Regions from separate parts of the Homo sapiens genome. Here region 1 is linked to region 2. The links come from fine-mapping of genetic effects on gene expression. A gene starts in region 2. The other region holds a variant in brackets. All regions are shown on one strand. Distances are between the middles of the regions.

Region 1 (2,500 bases), 48 kb after region 2:
CTTCGACAAGTTACGTTCATCATCATAAAGACCTTTCACTTTGACATTCCATGGTTTCAAACTCATCACCTTCTCTAAAGCTAATTGGTTCTCTTTTTGGGATCACTGACCCAGCCCTCACCATTATTTTGTCCTTCCTGACTATCTCGAATGCTAATATCTGACCTTCAGTTGTGTGGCCTCCTGTACCACTTCAGGTCACACAAGTCACATCTGCTTCTCCAAAATGACTATTGGAAAGGCAGTGACCATCCTCCCCACGGACCCGGCAAAGACTTTCTTTCTGATCACCCCCATTTGGCCTCTCCCTAGATCCTCTCTTGGCCTCTCTTTCCCAAGACTAGGTCTTATGCATTTTTCCCTATCCTAATTCCTTGAACTGTATGCCCAGCCTCATGGCACTTGCTGCATCTGTATTTCCAGTCATTTGGGTCCATTGCCATAAAGACCTTTCGCTTTGACATACCATTGTTTCAAACTGACCACCTTCTCCAAAGCTAGTAGTTCTTTTATTGGGATCACTGACCCCAGTGAAAATATGATAAAAGCTATGGAGCTACTCCCCCAAAAAATGTGCTCCCATATTTTCACATATAATTTCAGGGCATTCATGGGGGCTTCCTGGGTTCCACACCCTCTGACCTAAATGGGGTAGTCAGCTTCTCACTTTCTCCATTTCTGTCTACTACACTGTTCTCCTTGGACCTGGCCCTCCTTCATTCTTCAAATCCCATCTGTTCTTTGCCAATACCCAGTGACCTTCACCCTCATCTTTCCGTATATAGATTACTGCTAGGGTGAACCTCCATTCTGCAGGCTTGTGTTTCCAAGAGCTCCATGGAATAATAGTCCTGGGATATTCTTGACCACTCTCTGCCTCCCTTACCACCTCTCCCAAGTAGGAAGAGCAGTTTATTGTATTGGTCAGTGAATGCACACTCTCTTTTCCTGAAGAGAAAGAACATTCTGGTTCATGCAGTCAGTGGCCTGCTCCTGTGCTGTCTTTGACCCAGAGCCCCAGGTACCCAAGGGCAGGCTCTGAGCTTGGATGGGGACAAGCTCTGGCTCTTCTTTTGCAGGGTTCCCCCACTAGGCCTACTGAGTTGCCCAAGCCTGATTGGGCAAGTTTAATTCTGTGGTGAAGTATTAAGAAGCCCATTGTGATGACACATAAGCCCATTGCAGTGAACATAAGTAATGTTCTCTAATCAACTTTATCAGTAATAAAGCTGACATTTTCATCCTGTTCCTCTCTTGCTCAAGAATTCATCATGGCTCCACTCCCCATTTTGAAG[C/G]AAGTCCAGATACCTCATTCCAGCCTATGAAGCACTGCTCCGCCCCTCTCGGACTCTCTCATCTAGGTTCCCATGCACACCCAGCACTAACATCATTTGCTCCTGAACAAACTTCCTCTCACCCTGCCTCAGGGCCGTGGCTTGGACAGACCCACCCTGTCCTCTCTGATCTCCCCTATTTGATCTCTTTCCCCTGGACTGTCTCTCAGCCTCTGTTCCCAAGACCAGATCTTACTCTTTTCTCTCTAGCCTCACTCTTTGGACTACTTGCCCAGGCTCATGGCACCCACTGTAACTGTATTTCTAGTCATCTTTCTCCAACTGCCATGAAGATGTTTCATTTCAAACTCATCCCCCCTCCCAAGGCTAGTGGTTCTCTTTTTGGGATCACTGATCCTCCCAGCCCTCACCACTCTTTTCCTTCCTATCTTGAATACTTCTATCTGAACTTCAGTTGTGTGGCCTCCTATACCACTTCAGGTCTCACAGGTCACAGCTGCTTCTCCAAAATGACTCTGAAAGGCAATGACCATCCTCCCTAAGGACCTGGAAAAGACTTTCTCCATATTTTCCAGGGACCAAAGAATCAGTCCTTAGACTTGTGAGTCGCAAAGCCTGTTCTGCAGAGCCCAGGCCTCAGGGAGCACCTCCCCTGCCCCTGTCACTCACCGGCCATCATCTTTTGAGCCTCATAGGGCTCCATGTAGCCATCATTTTCAGGGACCTTCTCTGGGGCTCCTGAAGCTCCTGCTGAGCCTTCGCCAGTCTCCTGAACATCAAACGGGTCCGCATAGTCTTCTAGGATAGCTAGCTGTGGGAGGAGAGTGAAGAGAGTGGGCTTCAGGGAGCAGAGAGGCAACTCTGCTTCTCCCAAGGTACTCTGTCCATGGGAGCAAGAGTCCCAAGTAGGCTGCCTTCGACCCAGACCCCCAGGTACTCAAAGGAAGGCTCTGAGCTTGGATGGGGACAAGCTCTGGCTCTTCCTTTGCAGGGCTCCCCTACTAGGCTGCCAACCAAGTGGTACCTCTTTCCTTCTTTCTTTTTTTTTTTTTTTTTTGAGACAGAGTCTCACTCTGTCACCCAGGCTGGAGTGCAGTGGCGTGATCTCGGCTCACTGCAACTTCCATCTACCGGGTTCACACCATTCTCCTGCCTCAGCCTCCCGAGTAGCTGGGACTACAGGCACGCACCACCAAGCCCAGCTA
Region 2 (3,014 bases):
CCACTAATTCTCCACAAGTGGGGAGTGGGTGACATGGCTGGAGTTGCCAAGACCTCTGATTGGTAATGCACAGCTACTGCAATGTGATGCTTTTTTCTCTGATTGGGGTAGACCCCATTAAACGTTTACAGCTGTGGCTAGCTAAGGGGACCCTGTCAGGAACTCCTGTGCTAGACTTTCCTCTTCAAGGAAGGGGTCTGTGTGTACGTGTGTATCTGTGTATGAATGTATATGTGTGTTGTTGCACAAAAATAGGAGTTAAGTGGAGAAATTGAACAAGATCTGAAAAGTGGATTGGAGGCAGGATTCCCCAGTAAGGGCTGATGTGGATAAGGAATTCAAGGGTGCAGAATCATGCAAGCCAAAGTATCCAGACTCGAGTTAAACTGGGATGGCGATTCGATGTCTATAAACCTTGTGGCATTTATGGCCTTAAGAGGTTTTCCTTGCCTCCCCAGTTTCTTACCAAACTCTCTCTTTGAAGAACTCCCACTTGATCCGAACTTGGTCTGGATGAAAGCAGGAAGTGCAGCCCTAGGTGCCAGGGCGGGAGCAAGCACTTCAAGACCCCCTCCAAAATCACCTGGACCGCACAGATCTAAGCAGCCGCATCCCCCACCACCCACACCCGGACCACTATTCCCTACCTTCCCCTCTTCCAAACAGTGCGTGTGTGGCAGCCTGCGCCTCTCGCCTTCCCCCGTGGAACCTCACACGAAGCGCCCCCGGGGGTGTGATTAAAGAGGGAACCAGGTCCCGACGTTCTGTGAACAAACGCGCGCCCTTACTCTCAGTGGGGCTCCCGTCCGACCCCCACTCCTCTCCTAACTCACGTAAGGACCCGGCTGTGACCGGACAAACCGGGTCTGGGGTGCTTCCAGTCACTCTTCAAGTCACTCCCAAACTTCTCAGACTGCACCCGAGGCTCTGCGGCGCCGCCTCCCTCTCCCGGCCTGGTACAGAGAAGGGCTGGGTGCGCCAGGACAGTAGTACCGGGGTCTGCCAGCTCCGCAGAGGTCCCTCCAATCCCCCCTCCTCCTCTGCGCCCCCCCACCCATGCCCAGCAATCCCAGCAGCTCCAGCGCAAACCTAGCGACGCAGTTCCGGGTCTGGCGGGGCGCGGGCGCGGCTCGCAGGGCGGTGGGACCCCCAAGACCTCACGAGGATCCCCGGAGGGAGACGTGACTCCGGGGTCTTAGAGGGGTTTAGGTCGGATGGGTGACTTGCTTTGACGCCTGGCCTGGTCTGTGGGTGGCAGGTGATCGATGGCCTTGGACTTGGAGCCCAGACCCGACGGTGTCGAGAGGATCTGAGGAGAGTCTCCCCTCCCCATACCCTCTCCGCCTCCCACCCTCTCCCCAGCCCCATGGGACTTGTGAAGGCGGACTTGCTTTTTTCGCCGTCCACACAACCGCACTAGCCGGGCCTTCGGCACCGACGGAACATCTCTACCTGCGCCCCGGGAGCCCTCGCCGTCTCACCTCGCGCGCTGCCGTCCGCTGGAAGCACCTCCGCGCCTCCCCAGGCGCCAGACTCCATCCCGCCCCACTGCGCCCCGCCCCGTGGCTGAGCCGAGCCGGGCCGTGCCTTCCCCTCCTCACCCCCAGCCCCGCCCGTCCCGGCGCAGAGCTGCAGAGGCACCGGACGAGAGAGGGCTCCGCGGGCCCAGCTGGCAGCCAGGCCGGAGACAAGTTGCAGTCCCGGGCTCTGGTGACGCCGTGGCCGCAGGTCAGATTTGGGAGGGCTTTTCCCGGCCCGCGGGCCTGGGCGCTCCGGGGGAGGGAGCTCCAAGGGCAGGGTGGCGGGGGAGCCGCAGCTCCTCCACGTTATGGAAGAAAGGGGAATGCTAGCCCCCTGCGCCTCCGATCTTATCCTAAGGCTAAAACCGGTCCTGTTAGGGCCTGTCCTCTGCCCAATCAAGGTTTTGAGAGACTGGGTTCTTTGGGACCTGGGAATGTTGGGTGGCCTAGTTTGCCTGGGCCTGCGGGTTCTTCTCCTGGCACCAGCACAACATACCAGGGAGGGAGCTTTGGGCTTTAGGATCCAAGCTTTCCCCCTCAGCCCTCCCTTAGGACCAAGATGGCCTTGACCCATCTTCCTCCCACCTCAGGGCCACCAGGGTCACCACTCTAGGGCTTCAGGCTGGAAAAGCAGCCATGTGGGGCAAGAACAGGCAGGCCTGTGTTCTCTCTCTGGTTCTGCCGCTGGCTCTGCCTGGGGCTTCACTGCCCTGTCCTGGGCAACCTTCCTGTCAAGGTTGTTGAGAAGTTACTGCCCCATCGTTGTGTAAATCATTAAGGGCAACCCACCCACAAGGAGTGGTTATTAAGCATGTCCACCTTCCTCTTCAGGTCATCCCCACACAGCCTGGTCTGAAAGCCCATTTCATGCCCTTAGGGGCTGAGTGGTACATTAGCGTTGAGGCCCAGGATCCTGAAGACATGGTGGTGGCGGGGGAGGGGAATGACATCTTGGGATCAGGGAAGGACCGCTGTGGCTACTTCCGTATATCCAGCTTTACAGCTTCAACCATCCAGAGCCCAGCTCTTCATGCACTATTAAAGGCCAGCACCTGGACAGACTCTGTGAAATGCAGCAGGTGATACTGAGCTTTCCAGTTATGGCAGGGCCTAGGTTTTTTCATTTAATAGGAGATGGAGTAGGGATGAGGTCACTCCCTGGGTTCTCTCCTCTAGACAACCCATCCAGGAACCCTGATGTTTGGCTGGGGATGAGGCTTTCCCTGAGCTCCTTTCTTCCTCTATCCTAACCCCAATCTCCAGGTTGCCTTCAGGAGGTCTTCGCCGGCTTTAGGTACTCCTTACTCGCACTCAGGAGTCCCAGCCTGAGTCCTCTGCTGCCTCTGTTTCCCTGTTGACTCTGGGTGGAGAGAGAGAGAGCAGGAAGCTTGCACTAAATACATGAGCACCTGGTAGTGCATCCCTTCTGGATCCAACCAGAGGAGACAAGCTCCCGCCTACCCTCTCTATATCACATTTGCCCAACACCTGTCA

Which allele goes with the higher level. Positions count from the first base shown, and alleles are read on the strand shown. Sizes are in standard deviations (SD) of each study's normalised expression.
For the expression in unexposed skin of the gene that starts at base 1,509 in region 2, G is the low allele of the variant in region 1 and C is the other (small effect, 0.19 SD a copy in GTEx).

The links. PIP is the estimated chance that this variant, and not a neighbour inherited with it, causes the effect. A credible set is the group of variants that fine-mapping cannot tell apart.
Region 1: its variant is the best candidate, but not a certain one, in a credible set for the expression of DUOXA1 in unexposed skin (GTEx, PIP 0.55).

The regions. Positions count from the first base shown.
Region 1 is chr15:45,176,201-45,178,700 of GRCh38, forward strand. It overlaps SHF (Src homology 2 domain containing F), which reads right to left. Exons shown (of 7, transcript NM_001394037.1): 2 at 1,965-2,106. It overlaps LOC124903481 (a long non-coding RNA gene), which reads left to right and starts at 2,104. Exons shown (of 2, transcript XR_007064608.1): 1 at 2,104-2,500. The variant C/G (reference allele first, on the strand shown) is at 1,296.
Region 2 is chr15:45,128,371-45,131,384 of GRCh38, forward strand. DUOXA1 (dual oxidase maturation factor 1) reads right to left here and starts at 1,509. Exons shown (of 9, transcript NM_001276266.2): 1 at 1,482-1,509; 2 at 1,090-1,245; 3 at 648-764. DUOX1 (dual oxidase 1) reads left to right here and starts at 1,624. Exons shown (of 34, transcript NM_175940.3): 1 at 1,624-1,728.